4 linked regions of the Homo sapiens genome follow. The protein of the gene in region 1 purifies or fractionates together with the protein of each later gene. This does not show direct contact. Each region holds a gene or a part of one and is shown in the gene's direction. Other genes may lie near its edges.

Region 1 (5,183 bases):
GCAGAGACACTTCGCCCATGTGTGCTATGATGTGATGCATGCTGTTGGAAGGACTACTTTAAGTTTATTTTCCCTCTTTAGGGGAATGAGCAGGGGGAAGGTTATTAGACTTCATCGGCGGAAGCAGGACAACATATCAGGTGAGCGGAAGATGGGTTAGGTCCACAATTTGACATAAAAATATTCTGTGATCTGAATGTTCATTTTAAGAACCCCTCTTGGCCAGGCGCAGTGGCTTACGCCTGTAATCTCACCACTTAGGGAGGCCAAAGCGGGCGGATCACCTGAGGTCGGGAGTTTGAGACCAGCCTGACCAACATGGAGAAACCCCATCTCTACTGAAAATCCAAAATAGCCAGGTGTGGTGGCGCATGCCTGTAATCCCAGCTACTTGGGAGGCTGAGGCAGGAGAATCGCTTGAACCCGGGAGGCGGAAGTTGCCATGAGCTGAGATTGCGCCAGTGCACTCCAGCCTGGGCAACAAGAGCAAAACTCCCTCTCAAAAAAAAAAAAAAAAAAAAAAGAACCCCTCTTACAAGTTCCCATGGTCCCCCAGCCAGCTCTTTTCACAGAAAGAGATAGAAGTCCTCTCAAGACCACTGTATAGTTCTCTCATTGTAAACGAAATGTGTTGAGAACAGTTTAGTCCTGTAGCAAAGTATTCCTTGTGAACACAAAAAATATGGATTCCTGTTTTAAAAATTAGCCAGTCTCAAATTGTTATAGATTGAGTCAGCGAAGCTTAGGGACTGAATACAAGGGGAGAAATAAATACCATGAGGAACAGGGTTTATATGCTTAATGCCAATGACATAGAATCTTGTTTTCTTAAGGAAGATGAGTATTTAACGTTGCTTTACAGATGATAAGAGTTAATAGTGGAAGTAATGGCTTACTGCATGTGGGGCACACCTAAAAGAATAAGCTACTTTTAATGTACTTTTGAGGCTATTAGTACCTGAACTATGAAATCATCATTTTTCAGGTGGGGATAGCAGTGCAACAGAAAGCTGGGATGAGGAGCTTTCTCCTTCCACTGTGTTGTATACAGCAACACAGCACACACCTACAAGCATCACCTTAACTGTTAGAAGAACCAAACCCAAGAAGCGGAAAAAGAGTCCAGAAAAGGGTCGTGCAGCACCAAAGACGAAGAAAATCAAGGTATGCAGGGTAAAAATATCTTAAATAGAAATTGTCTGAAATAGCTTAAATTTTGGAGCAAGAATGCACCAAAATTCTTTTAAGAAGTTTGATCCAGGTGTTTGAAGGGCCACTTTTGTTCTACTTGCAAAAATCAGCTAATCTGTGTTATGTACATGTAGACCAACCTCTCTTCTGCCACACCATATCATCACCACTGGCTCAAAGTTTCTTCTACTCCAGTCCCCATCCCAGGTATGAAATTCCAGCCCTACCTGGCACAATCCCGTATGTGTTGCAGCCTCAAGTCTAGGCTTCCACTATCCTTACAGTATCTCCCCACCTCTCAACCCCAAAGTACAGTCTGAAATTCTTGTCCTGGTTACATGCCTCATGTCTTTGGGTTGATTGTTTTTCCTTGTTTCAAAAAAAATAAAAATCAGGAAACATCTCTTGTATGGTCTAGGTTTCCTCAGTGTCATGGTCACTTTCCTGTATTCTCAGCTAAAATGTCTACGGGAGAAACTTCTTCTGGTTTGTGTTCTTTCTTCCCCATCACAGCAACTTTGTTGCTTCTAGGTGACTTGTTCATCCCTTGTTAAGGGGATTGGTCTTTGTTTCCTTCTTAGTTTCAAAACTGGTAAATCTGCAACTTTAAAGTTTTTTTTTATTTACTTTTTCTCTTAGTATCAGAGGTGCATATAGGATTTAAGAGATGCATGCTCTTCCCTGTTAATTACCTAGCTTCACAGTAGAAAGTATTAAAATTAGTCTCAGAGTTCATTGGCCTTGAGCTACCCCTATTCTTGGTAATAGTTTGGGGAATTCCATTGTATTTTTTACCTAGAGAAAGGGGGACAGAATAGAACACTAGTTTGTGCCTTAGTTTTAGTCTCAGATAGGTATAACTGTCATTCTTGGTACCAAGTTTTGTTTGTTCTACTTGTTTTCCTCCTTGGGATAGGCATTTCGAGAGGGATCCCGGAAGTCCTTGCGGATGAAGGTAAGGGGTAATCTTCGCTGATGCTGTGTTTTACTTCACTGTGATCTTGCATTTTGGTCAGCTTCTTTCCTGACATTGATGGTCTGGGAATCTTGGACTCTGCTTTTCATTAGTTTGTAGTTGTTGCCATTCAGTTTTCATAGAGCTTTTCTCCAAAGTAGATTTTCTTGGCCATTTTCTGAAATATTTTCCCTTTCTGTAATCAGCCTTCATTGATTGGTTTTTCATTCATTGCTTTCCTAGGGGGTAAGTGACATTTTTCCAAACAAAATGAGGCTAGTGTGTTCTGTCACTGTGATTGAACTCAACCTTAGGAGTGGAGTTTTTCTGGTAATGATACAGGATCTCTTGTGCATCTACCCTAGCACTGTGTGGGCTTTAATTGCAGGACGCTTGTATTATTGATAAGAATTACTGTTTTCTCTTAGCATATCTGTTTGGTGGAAAAAACTTAGGTAATGCTAGCATGTTTCTTAAGATATCAAATAAAAGAGTTTATGAAGTATGATTTTGTAAAGAACTTGGAGAATAGAGCAAGTATGTGGAATGGTTTAAAAGAAGTGTAAGGTGCTGGTTGATTAAAAATAGCTTGCCAAAAGGAGATTTGATTATGCTGTCTGGTATCCTCCTTTACGTGTGTGTGTGTGTGTGTGTGTGTGTGTATAAATATATATATATGAGGAAAACATGCCTCTCAAATTATTACTGGGGGCTTCAAAGCATTTAAATAGAATTAAATTCAAGTTTATGAGTATTCATATTCCTAAATGATACAAAAGCAGGATCTTTCCTATTGAGAGTTATAGGGCATAAATATTAAAATCTTTAGTAAGGCCAGGCGCAGTAGCTCACGCCTGTAATCCTAGCACTTTGGAAGACCAAGGCAAGTGGATCACCTGAGGTCAGGAATTCAAGACCAGCCTGGCCAACATGGTGAAACCCCATCTCTACTAAAAATACCAAAATTAGCCAGGCGTGGTGGCAGGCACCTGTAGTCCCAGCTGCTTGGGAGGCTGAGGCAGGAGAATCGCTTGAACCCAGGAGGCAGTGGTTGTAGTGAGCCGAGATCACGCCACTGCACTCCAGCCTGGGCAACAGAGCAAGACTCCATCTCAAAAAAAAAAAAAAATTCAGTAAGGATAAGCTTTTTAGGATTGCTTTATGTGCAGCACCAGTGTGACTGGTGTTAGCAAAGATTACAGGTAGCACTTTACCTAAAGTTTGAAGGCCCCACTTAGTATCTATCTTTAAACAGACTTGCACATACCTGTGAAAGAGTTGGGAGAGGACTCAGAGCTACAGAGCATCAGAGGCCTGGGATGTGTCTTGGAAGACAAATCAATCATGCCTTTGCTGGATCCGTCTCTTGCAAGTGGCCAAGTTTGCTTTAGCTTCCCCTTTATTTTTGTCTCATTTGCTTAGAGAGGGGCCTTTTAAATAGACTTTGGAGGCAGATAATAGCCCTAATCCTGGCTACTAAATGCTTTTCTCTTATCAAGCAACTATCATAACTTATCTCCAGAAGCTCGAAACCTTTCAAAAGCTATAAACTGGCTCTACCAGAAAACTGCACATAAACCCCATATTTTGCTTACAGTTTTGGGAGGTTGACAGCCTCACAGGTGTGTTAAAATTTAGAAAAAAAAATTACTAGTCATTTTGATTCTTTTAATTCTAAATTGAGTTATAAATTTTATGCTCAGAATTACTAGTTTAAAACTCCTCCAGTGATCCAGGTGGGAGCCATAAGAATTAGAAAAAATTATCATTTGGATTTTTAATCCCAGTGTCAAGAGCAGCTTCCCTACTGAAGACTTAATTGTAAATCAGGGTTTCTCAGTCTTGACACTGTTGACAGTTTGGACCAGATAATTCTTTGTTGTGGAAGGGACTGTTCTGTGCTTTCAAGATGTGAACAGGATCCCTGGTGTCTACCCACTAGATGCCGGTAACACTCATACACTCAGTTGAGATTATCAAAAATGTCTTCAGATATTACCAAATGTCACCTGGGTGCAAAATTTCCCTCAATTGAGAACCACTACTCTAAACCCAACTGAGGTAGAGTCTCTAATGCCTTGAAGGATGGGACAGCAGAGTAAACACACAGTGAGATTAGCGAACAATGGCTAATACTGTGACAGAGGCTTCCAGAATACAGTACACTTATCAAGTGTAAGTTTAACAATTGCCACTTAAAGCTGGGAATATTGTTTGGACACTGCCAGTCCCCCTAGTCTGTAAGCTCCATTAAGCCTAAGGTTTTGCACTATTCTTTTGCGCAACTGCTACTGATGTCAAGCAGGCGATACTCTGATTGTCAGTATGTTGGCTTTAGGTGTTTCTTTAGATCCCTTTGTTTATTGTTCAGTCTTTTGGACTCTAGTAAGAAATGTGGAGACAATAGTGTTGATTTTTTTTCTTCTATACTCCTGTTCCTTGCAGAAAGGATAGTAGACAATAATCAGTCAGCAACAGTGATGCAAAAGTGGTAAAAGAAAGTGTTATGATAAGCATCAGTGTTTTCTGTGCCATTCATAGAAAGTATATTTAATTTTATTGTACCTGTTTGCAAGTTTAATGTGGACATGGATTTTCAAGTAGCTTTGGTACTACAGTGTCTTTTCCTTCTAATCATCACTAGCATGACATCATCACTGTCAGTGTTTGTTTTGTTTTCTGATGGCACTTAAGTCTTGAACACCGTGGAGGAGAACATGTATTGGGCTTATGCTTTGTCTCTGTAGCTCAGGCACTGTCTGCCTAGGAAGCTGTTCCTGAGTTGTAGTAATCTTTTCTCAATACTGTCACCATAGAGGGCAATGGTTTTCCTAGAGGAGTATAGCAAAGTACCTCCTAGACATTTTCTATATTCTCCCTACCTACTCCTCTCCCCTCACTTCACCTCTTCAGATTATTTAGAATGTGGTAATTTAAATTGTTGAAAATAGAGTGTTAGAAAGATATACTCAAATAATAACTTTTTATATGGGTAGTAAGATTGGGATTGGATTAATGAGATTGATTGATTAAGATC
Region 2 (3,500 bases), on another chromosome or scaffold:
TTGCCCAGGATGGTCTCCATCTCTTGACTTCATGAGCTGCCCACCTCGGCCTCCCAAAGTGCTGGGATTACAGGTGTGAGCCACCGCGCCCGGCCAATCTAAGATTTTGTGACTCAGTAGTAACATTGACTTTTTGTCAGTGGAATTAGTAGTAACATTGACTTTTGTCCATTAAAATTTTGGACAAAAAGTCAGTGTTACTACTGAGGATGAATAATTGTCAGTACTCTGTGGGAATATTTACAATTACTTTGATATCTGACAATAATTAGTTATAATACAAACAGATGAATGTAATTACTTTATGAAGCAGTTTGAAGCCCTTCCCCTGAAGGATGATCTTCAGCTTTATTTTGCTTGTCTTATTGCTTCCCAGTAAGGCAAGGATTTTTGTTTGCTTTGGTCTTTTATGATTCCCCAGCTCTTCTAAGAATGCCTGGTACATACTGGGGTTTTGGTAACTTCACTAAGTGGATGAAGTGTCAGCTTCCTTAAACTCTAGCCAGTGAGGCTATTGGATTTTTTCAGCTCAGTATAGTCTACTAAATTAATGAATACAGTTCATTAATTCTCCTTAAGGAAACAGCATCTTACGTTAGGTTCTTAGAGATTTGTTATAGGTTCTGCCAAGATTTTTAACTCATTTTTCTTGAATGTAAAATAGTTGAAAATAGTTTTTGTGTTCTGTTGTGTGTGTGTGTAGAGGGGGCAGTATGAAAGTATATAATGGACTATTATGAGAACTTAGAATTTTTTTTCTAAAATTCTGGAGTGTATATTATAGAAATAGGAAGATTTAGATCACTAATGAACAAATTAACTTTTAGCAACATGTTTTATAGTATTTAATGGTTTGTGTTTTCTGGTGTGGTATGCTCTTTTGCCTAAAGACAACTTTTAAAAACTGAAATGGGGCCGGGCGCAGTGTCTCACGCCTGTAATCTCAGCACTTTGGGAGGCCGAGACGGGCGGATCATGAGGTCAGGAGATCGAGACCATCCTGGCTAACACGGTGAAACTCCGTCTCTACTAAAAATACAAAAAACAAAAAAAACAAACTGAAATTGGATTTTTCAACAGCATCATTGAGGTATAATTCACATACAGTAAATTGTACATATTTAGTGTACATCATTTTTCCTAGTCAGGAAAGTGGCAAAAATAAAGTATATAATTTGATGAGTTTTGACATACGTATACATCTGTAAAACACCACACAGTTAAGACACCACACACCACAGTTAAGACAATAAACACGTTTATTACCCAAAAGCGTTTTCCATACCCCTTTGTAATTCCTCCCTCACCTTTTGTCCGCCTCCCCCATCCATCTGCAACCACTGATCTGCTTTCTATCAGTGTAGATTAGTTTCATGAAATTGAATTTTAAATTTATTTTTATTTCCATAGAAACTGGACCAGGATCTTAATGAAGTCAAAGCTCGAGTAGAAGAACTGGACAGAAAATATTACGAAGTAAAAAATAAGAAAGATGAACTACAAAGTGAAAGAAAGTTAGTATAGACTAAAATGTGCATTAATGTTTTCAGTAATGTTCGTTACTAGCTGTTATGTGGTCTTTAAGTTACAAGTTAACCGGTCAGGCTTGTTTTCTGTATTTTGATTCTAAACTGTATACTGTTAATGCATCCTCATATGTGTTTAAAATTAAAGACAGTCTACTTTTTATTTATTAGCTACTTGTGGAGAGAAGAGAATGCAGAACAGCAAGCACTTGCTGCTAAAAGAGAAGATCTTGAAAAGAAGCAACAACTTCTTAGAGCAGCAACAGGAAAGGTGGGCAGGTTCTTTTCATCACCTCTGTTTACACTGAGTCATTGAGTTAATCGTTATGTAATAATTTTTTACCTTTCAAGGTGTAGGTCATGGGTTCCAAGTGATAAATAGGAGTCCAAATTATCTTCTAAATATGAAATGATAGAGATTAAATAGTTTTATTACTACACATACTATTAATAGCACTTTTGATGTTCAGATAAAGAGCCCATTTTTAACACTACTGTTATGGAACAGAGCCTATCATATAAGGTGTTACATGTAGTTGGCATATTGTGAGGAGGTGATGTGTTTGTTGGAGAGGATGTTTAGTTTAATCACTGGTATATTTTTAAAATGTATGGTGTTGTGGGCTCATTCCTTACCAGGAGTGCCATTGATGATATTATTTTAATATTTTTCATTTCTGACAACTTACAGGCCATTTTAAATGGAATAGACAGCATAAACAAAGTGCTAGACCACTTCCGTCGAAAAGGAATAAACCAGCATGTTCAAAATGGCTATCATGGTATTGTAATGAATAACTTTGAATGTGAACCAGCTTTCTACACATGCGTGGAAGTCACTGCTGGAAACAGGTTAAAGCTTTTGCTTGATATTTAGCATTTTTAGAAGAGGGAATAAGAATAGCTTAAACAACTTTTGTAGTTTTTGTACAACATATCTTCCATTATCTTTTTATATCTCGGTTCCTTAACTTTCTAATTAAAGAAGTAGATGCTAAGTATTTGTTCCTAATTATAGAAGCTAGAACTTTCCTCTTTTGGGAGTTTCTCCCTCCCCGCCATTGGAATTTTTAAAGTAGTCTTATTTTCCAAAATTATTTGGATTATATAGGAAAAAACTGTTTGATGCTTAAGTGTTTATAACATTTTAAAAGTGCACACCTTTAGTCCCAGCTATGCAGGAGGCTGAGGTGGGAGGATTGATAAGTTTGGGCAACATAGGGAGACCCTGAGTACCAATAAAGATTTGTCTTACTCTGTTTATATTTAGGTTATTTTATCACATTGTTGATTCAGATGAAGTCAGCACGAAGATTTTAATGGAGTTTAATAAAATGAATCTTCCTGGAGAGGTTACTTTTCTGCCTCTTAACAAGTTAGATGTCAGGGATACAGCCTATCCTGAAACCAATGTGAGTCATTGTGTGATAAGGTGTATTTCTCTTTTATAATGTTATTTTTTATCACATAATCTAACACATGCTAGTGCCCAGGCACTATACACTGGGATTCAGTGGTGTATGAGATAAAAATATCTGTCTTCCCATGGACCTTAGTGCTGAGTGGGTTTTGGGGAGGGAGACAGAAGTCACAGCTATGATTGGTGTGGTGATGCACGCCTGTAATCCCAGCTACTTGGGAGGCTGAAGTGGGAGGATCATTTAAAAAGAAGAGAAAAAAGCTAAGATATGAAACAAATCATTGCAAATGTGCAGTGTTAAAAGCGTAAGTACAGGATACTTTGAGAGCATATCTGGGAGTGACATAATTAAGGTTAGGGAGTTGGAGAAAGATTCCCAAGGAACTGTCATGTATAGTTTAAAAGTGTCTTGACGTACTTAGGATTAAATGAAAAAAATGGCTAGTAAGGTGATAGACTTCGGAAGCATAACATTGCTTTTGTTGGTAACAAAAGTGCACTTTAGGTGGATTAAAAATATTCTTCAGACACCATTCTTAGAACAGTGTAATTGC
Region 3 (3,500 bases), on another chromosome or scaffold:
GTTGGTTAAAAGAGTCAATCACTGGCTCACATGCAGTCGCTGGAAGAAAGTTCAGTGGTGCTCACTCTCAGTCATCAAATGTAGGTGTTTTCCTTTACACCTATAGGATCTTTCATTGTTTCAAGATGGTTTGTGGAGTGTTGTAAAGCTGTCTCAGAGGTGATGCTGAGCAACAGAGACTGAGACTTGTTCACACTGGGTCCCAGGTTCCTATTTGTAGATGTTCTTTCTTTTTTTATTTTTTGAGTGTATGATATTTATTTTCTTTATTCAAATGTGTTATAAGAGTGTCAGTTTCATAGTGTCCTAACAAAACAGAATTCACTATCTTGATCTCTCGTCCCCGCACCCCTCACCATCCCCTAATCTCTCAGACTTAAACCAGAACTTTTCTTTCTGCCTGCATGGCATCTACAATACACATACCCCGAAAATTCTAATTGTAATTGATTTTCCTTTCTTATCCCTGAAATATTGTCAGTCACCAGATCCTGTTGATTCCTTCTCCAAATACTGTACATTCCTTTCTTTTTCTTGCCAGTGCCTTAGTGAAGTCCTTTTCCACCTTTTGCATAATAATTCCATTAGCTCCCAGACTGGTTTTCCTGGTTTCTTAGAGATATCTCTCTAAACTAGAAGCCTTTTATAACTTTCCTTTCATAAAAGGTGAAGTCTAAATTATTTGATGTCTTTCAAGATCATGTAAAATGGTGTGTCAGTTTTTTGTTTCAGTCTCTTCCCCCACCATCCCCTCTTAAATCCTGTTTTTTGAACGGAAGTCTGTCATAATCCTGAAAGACACTGTCTTGAACACCATAATCCCAAATGTTGAAATCTTAAAAGATGAAAGTCCCAAAACTAGGATTCTGTAAAAATAATAAAAAAAGATATTTATTTACATTTTAAAAAGGGGATTTGAGAAACGTATAAAAACATGACAGAACTCTTCATAGGCCACTTTTCACAATAAAATAGGCAATAACATATATATAGGCAATAAACATATATGTTTATTGAAACTATAAACACATATACTAACAATAGTTGCATGGGTATAACAGGAGCAGACAAACCGTATTCATAAAGAATAGGGCGAAAGGTGAAATGCATAAACACATATTATTGTGGTTGGTAATTGTGCACCCAGCTTTGTTACTGCAGTCATCTGAAATACTGTGATGATGAACAAGCTGTCTTTTGATGAGATCAGTCAAAAACCATAGTGAGTCACCACTGCATTTGTAGTTGCCCAGAGAACTGAAATCTTGAGAAATTTTATCTTTTACAAGTGCAGATGTATGATAAAGGACATCTGTTCATTGATTAAGTTTCAGTGTTTTTATATACATACACAATGTTTACCCAGAAAGTAAATGTTGTGGTAATGCATTTTCATGGAGTTAAATTTGCAAAAAATGAATACAGTAAATTAGAACTCTCCAAAAATTTCTACATAATTAAAAAATGCTAACAATTTAAGATAGTGAAAATAAAAACAAAGAAAAAAAAAACACCCAAAACTAAAAAGGAAGTTTGACATAAAAAAAAGTGTATCACAGGGACAGATTATAGGCAGTTGCATGGAGATAGTCCATAGAGCTGGCTGTCTTTCTCAGTCATTAACTATATTTTGAAGTCTTGTACCACGAATAATAGGTGCTTTTTTTCTTTTAGGACATGGTTCTTGGAGAATATGTTCATATTCATTTTCTTCATGAGATTGCTCTTTTTGGAATTCTTCTGTGATTCCTCTGATTGGGATTTTTAGGATTTTTGATGTTAGGGATTTTAATCTAGGAATTTTGATCTTTTGGGATTTCAACATTTGGGATTATGGCTTTTGGGATTAGGAATTCAAACCCCTTTGACATACTGGGCTAAGCTGCTTTTATGTGTGGTTTGGCCAGGTCATAGCAGCTACATAGCTGGCCCAAGACAAAAGTGAGGGACAGAACATTTTGGGGTTACCTAAGGATCTGTGGCAAACCTTTAATTGTTGGGAGCTGTGTAGGAATCAGTAACTTGATTACATTTACAGTTGCCCCTTATACTCATCAGAGTACCTGAAATAGTGCTAGGTACATGAAAAGGATCCAGCGAATTTTTCCTTATCAGTAGAAAAGGAAAATTCTTTTGGCCTAATGAAAAAGAATCATGCTAACAAAGATTATTTTTGAGGTATTTTGTTAGACAATTGTGAATATAGATAAAAAGAGAACTATTAATATAAAAAGAAAAAAGATAGCAGAATCTTTTCCCCATCATTTTCCAAATAAAATACAGAAACATCTTTATTACTGTAGTTTAATACGTTCAGCTTTACACATTGCATTATGATAGGAAACACATTATAGTAAACTCATCTGTTACACCATTCATTTGTGGACTGTGTTCTACAGTGGTACCGAAGTCAGTAACCGGGCAGGGATCTTTGCAGAATGTTAATAGGAAACTCTGAAAAAAAAGTTCAAGGTCAGATCATCCTAGGAAATTGTGAGTAACTGAAGTTAAGTAGATTTCTTTGCTGTAGGATTCTCAGAGGCTTCACTCAGTATGTTCATTGTGAACCTCCATACAGAAGTATAGTGTACAGCTTTTCATAAACTCATTTGACAGGTAAATCCTTTTTTCAGGACATACCTATTCACATTTCATAGAACAAATGTTGCCTAAGACAGTTTGGGAGGTAGCAGTGTAGCATACTAAGGAAATAATGCATTTAAAATGTAAGCCTAACCAGATACATGATATTGTAACTGCCCAGTGGGTTCTCCTTGCCCACTACCCAGACAGAGCTGATTTATCAAGATAGGAATTGCAGTAGAGAGACAGTAATTAATGTAGAGTCGGCTGTACGGGACACTGGAGTTTTATGATTACTCAAATCAGTCTCTCTGAAAACTCGGAGATCTGAATTTTTAAGGATAATTTGGTAGGTAGGGGCTTGGGTTGGAGATGAAATCATAGGGGGTCAAAATTGAGTTTTTCTTGCTTGCTTCTGTTCCTGTGTGGGAGCACAGAACTGGCTGGGCCGGATTACCTATCTAGGTGGCATCAGCTGGTGCATTGGAAGGTCTGCAAAATATCTGGAGCACTGATTTTAGGTGTTACAACTGTGATGTTATACCTGGGAGCAATTTGAGGAGGTTCAGATTCATGCAGCTGGAGGCTGTGTGGCTCCTAAACCGTAATTTCTAATCTTGGAGCTAATTTGTTAGTCCTACAAAGGCTGACTGGTTCCCCAGGCAAGAAGGGGGTTTATTTTGGGAAAGGGTTATTATCATGTTTGTTTCAAAGTTAAACTTTAATAAACTAAGTTCTTTCCCAAGATTAGTTCGGCCTACACCCAGGAATGAACAAGGACAGCTTAGAGGTTAGAAGCAAGATGGAGTTGGTTAGGTCAGATCTCTTTTACATAATTTCCTTGGTTGTAATTTTTGCAAAGGCAAAATTACATCTTTCAACATCTTTTTATTTTTAAGAAGAATAAGAAATTATAG
Region 4 (3,500 bases), on another chromosome or scaffold:
GCCATCAGAATTTCTGATTCAGTAGGTCTGAGGTTGGGCCCAAGAATTTGTATTTCCCGGGTGATGCCGATGCTGTCTGAGGACTATATTTTGAGAACTACTGATCTTGGTCTTAGAGAATTAAAGATTCATGAAAAGTTTTTAAAATAATATTTTCACTTGGTTAACACTATCCTAGATGGAGTACCTCACTTTGAGCTAATTGATCATAATTACTAGCTGTGAACTAAATGTGATGCCTTTTTTTTGTTAATAATATTTTTTCCTTGAAAGAGCTAAGGCCACTTCCTCAGCAATGCTTTTTTTTTTTTTTTAACTGGGGCTTTTTGAGTTTGCCCCAATTCCCTTCTTTTTTTTTTTTTTTTGAGACAGTCTTGCTCTTTCACCCAGGCTGGAGTACAGTGGCATCTCGGCTCACTGCAACCTCCGCCTCGTGGGTTCAAGCCATTCTCCTACCTCAGCCCCCCCAGTAGCTGGGATTATAGGTGCACACCACCACACCCAGCTAATTTTTGTATTTTTAGTAGAAACAGGGTTTTACCATGTTGGCCAGGCTGGTCTTGAACTCCTGACCTCGTGATCTGCCCGCCTCGGCCTCCCAAAGTGCTGGGATTACAGGTGTGAGCCACTGCGCCCAGCCTGCCCAATCCCCTTCTAACCTGTGTTCAGGTGGGAATGTAGAGCAGAAAGTAGGAACAGGCCTATTCCTGGTCCTCTCACCCAGGCCATTTCAGGCCTGGATCAGGGCTTTGTGGGAATTTAGTTAGGCAGAGGAGGCTGAAAGATGGAGGCAGGGTTGGTGTGAGGTGTGAAGCGGGATGCGGGTAAGGACCACTTTTCTAGCTAGGTTTCCAATGTAAACTTTATTGATTTAAATTGAAATAATTGTAGATTTTTTAGATATATGTGGATGTGTCAGATTTTTTGGTTTCATATATGAGATAATATGAGATATCTACTCATAGGGAAAAATGATTTTCTCTGTTTTCCCTTAGACTTTCAGATCACATGGCCAAGCATGGTGGCTCACGCCCTTAATCCCAGCACTTTTGGAGGCCGTGGCGGGCGGACTGCTTGAGGCCCAGCGTTTGAGGCCACCCTGGCCAATATGGTGAAACCCTGTCTCCACTAAAAATACAAAAATTAGCTGGACGTAGTGGTGTTTACCTGTAATCCCAGCTACTCAGGGGGCTGAGGCAGGAGTGTCGCTTGAACCCAGAAGGCGGAGGCTGCAGTGAGCCGAGATTACAGCACTGTACTCCAGCTTGGGAGACAGAGCGAGACTCATCTCAAAAAAAAAAAAAAAGAATTCCAGGTCACAGTAATGATTCTTACATATAAATTCCATTCTTTGATGCAAGAATGATTAATGATTTGCATACTTCTAGATAAGGTGAATCACAATGTAATATAAATTATTATGTTTTTGTAAAAGGAGTTTGAAAGGATTTTTTTTTTTTGAGACGGATTCTTGCTCTGTTGCTAGGCTGGAGTGCAGTGGCGCGATCTTGGCTCACTGCAACCTCCACCTCCTGGGTTCAAGCAATTCCCCTGCCTCAGCCTCCCAAGTAGTTGGGAATACAGGTGCATGCCACCATGCCCGGCTAATTTTTTGTATTTTAATAGAGACAGGGTTTCACCATGTTGGCCAGGATGTTCTCGATCTCCTGACCTCATGATCCGCCAGCCTTGACCTCCCGAAGTGCTAGGATTACACACGTGAGCCACTACACCCGGCCAATTTGTAGGATTTTAAACATATTTATGGGGTTTTGTTAGTTTGTTTTCAGATATTATTGATAAAGCCAAGAGCTAACTGTTTAGAAACATAACTCAATATGAATACCCAAGGATTTTGGTTTTTGGTTTTTGAATTTTATTTCATAAACGTTTCTTCCTGCCTTATTCTTCACACTGGTGTTTTTGTCCCTTCAGCTTCTCATGGAATATACAGCCCGCTGTAATCCTTACAACCTGGGTCAGTCAGAGAGAGTCAGCATCTCCATTTCCTTGAGATGTTTAAAACACAAACAAGCAAATAATAACTGCCTATAACCCACAACCAAGTTTTGGGCCTCAGATAATAATTCCAGGTAGAATAATTCTGGAAAATAACTCTTAAACTGCAGTTTTTCTTAAAATCCCTTCTATTTGCTCAACTTGCATAGGATTAAAAATCTGGCTCCATTAGTTAATTGTGATGTAGCCCAAGTTTTAGCTAATAGAGTCATTCCTTTACTGATTCTGCTTTTAGACATTTTTTCTTTTAAATTTCACTTATATGATTATTATTTCTGAATATACAATTTCTTCCAAAAATAGGACAAGGACAAATACCAGTTTGGTAAGACAAAGATCTTTTTCCGTGCCGGTCAAGTGGCCTATCTAGAAAAATTGAGAGCTGACAAACTGAGAGCTGCCTGCATCCGGATCCAGAAGACCATCCGAGGGTGGCTGCTGAGAAAGAAGTACCTACGCATGCGGAAGGCAGCCATCACCATGCAGAGATACGTGCGGGGCTACCAGGCCCGATGGTAGGTCTCCTGGGGACAGAGTAGAGTGCCCATCTAATTCACTGTCCAACCAAGGACAGTTTTGACTGGTCACCATAGCTGAAAAGATAACACCTCACCTTTTCTTAGTTCCAAGGGACAACAAATTAACTCATAGGACAGCTAAATAGAATAAAATTTCACTCAGCCTTATGAATGATTCAGATTTATCTTCAAAACATTTACAAACTGCTGCTTACTTATGTCCTCAAAATTTTTATTTTTGATACTTTTATATTGGGCTTGAGGAAATCATGTATCAATTAAAACAGTCGTGAATATGAGCTAGGTAATAATGACTTCATTGTATAATTTTTGGGAGCAATTAACTGAGAGGGTCTGGAAGAGAATTACACTTTAGTGTGATTACTTATTAGTTTAATTTTAATTGAGAAGTATAAGTAGAACTGAATTAATCATGAGCTTATAGCCTAACAAAATCAGGAAAAATATGGTAGATGAATAATGGCTAGATCCAAGAAAGCTGGTGATAACTAAGTATGAGATTACTGTGTATGTCTGTCTGTTCTATAAAGAGGCATGGCCTGGGGTAAATGGATCCTGTTGTAGAAAGAATGAATTTTTGTGAATTTTGCTTTCTTGTAAAATCTGGCAATGTGGGCCATCCTACTTTCCAGAGTTAGGGAGGGCTCAAATGAGATAATAAATGCAAAAATACTTTGGGAAACTATAAATTGCTATACAAATGTAAGTAAATATAAATGTTGACTTAGCATGCACATTATTAGAATAATACAATGGAGGTACTATTTATGCCTAAAACAGTGACACTCTTTAAGTTTCTCTAATATGTATTCCTGCATTTTTTTCTGATTACTGACAACATAATGTTATTTTCTTTGGCCAGCTATGCTAAGTTTCTGCGCAGAACCAAGGCAGCAACCATCATTCAAAAGTACTGGCGCATGTATGTGGTCCGCAGGAGGT

The links.
Region 2: the proteins of SETD5 (region 1) and SMC3 purify together in Homo sapiens (affinity purification with mass spectrometry, with the first as the bait; one large-scale study listed by BioGRID). This does not show direct contact.
Region 3: the proteins of SETD5 (region 1) and MYO6 purify together in Homo sapiens (affinity purification with mass spectrometry, with the first as the bait; one large-scale study listed by BioGRID). This does not show direct contact.
Region 4: the proteins of SETD5 (region 1) and MYO5A purify together in Homo sapiens (affinity purification with mass spectrometry, with the first as the bait; one large-scale study listed by BioGRID). This does not show direct contact.

The regions. Positions count from the first base shown.
Region 1 is NC_000003.12:9,434,743-9,439,925, forward strand, and holds part of SETD5 (histone-lysine N-methyltransferase SETD5), read left to right. Parts: intron 1-81; coding exon 82-140; intron 141-985; coding exon 986-1,164; intron 1,165-2,107; coding exon of another isoform or gene 2,108-2,146; intron 2,147-5,183.
Region 2 is NC_000010.11:110,588,195-110,591,694, forward strand, and holds part of SMC3 (structural maintenance of chromosomes protein 3), read left to right. Parts: intron 1-1,410; coding exon 1,411-1,514; intron 1,515-1,697; coding exon 1,698-1,797; intron 1,798-2,217; coding exon 2,218-2,378; intron 2,379-2,796; coding exon 2,797-2,938; intron 2,939-3,500. UniProt on the Homo sapiens protein: Central component of cohesin, a complex required for chromosome cohesion during the cell cycle. The cohesin complex may form a large proteinaceous ring within which sister chromatids can be trapped.
Region 3 is NC_000006.12:75,881,739-75,885,238, forward strand, and holds part of MYO6 (unconventional myosin-VI), read left to right. Parts: coding exon 1-80; intron 81-3,500. UniProt on the Homo sapiens protein: Myosins are actin-based motor molecules with ATPase activity. Unconventional myosins serve in intracellular movements. Myosin 6 is a reverse-direction motor protein that moves towards the minus-end of actin filaments.
Region 4 is NC_000015.10:52,375,381-52,378,880, reverse strand, and holds part of MYO5A (unconventional myosin-Va), read left to right. Parts: intron 1-2,322; coding exon 2,323-2,534; intron 2,535-3,420; coding exon 3,421-3,500. UniProt on the Homo sapiens protein: Processive actin-based motor that can move in large steps approximating the 36-nm pseudo-repeat of the actin filament. Can hydrolyze ATP in the presence of actin, which is essential for its function as a motor protein. Involved in melanosome transport.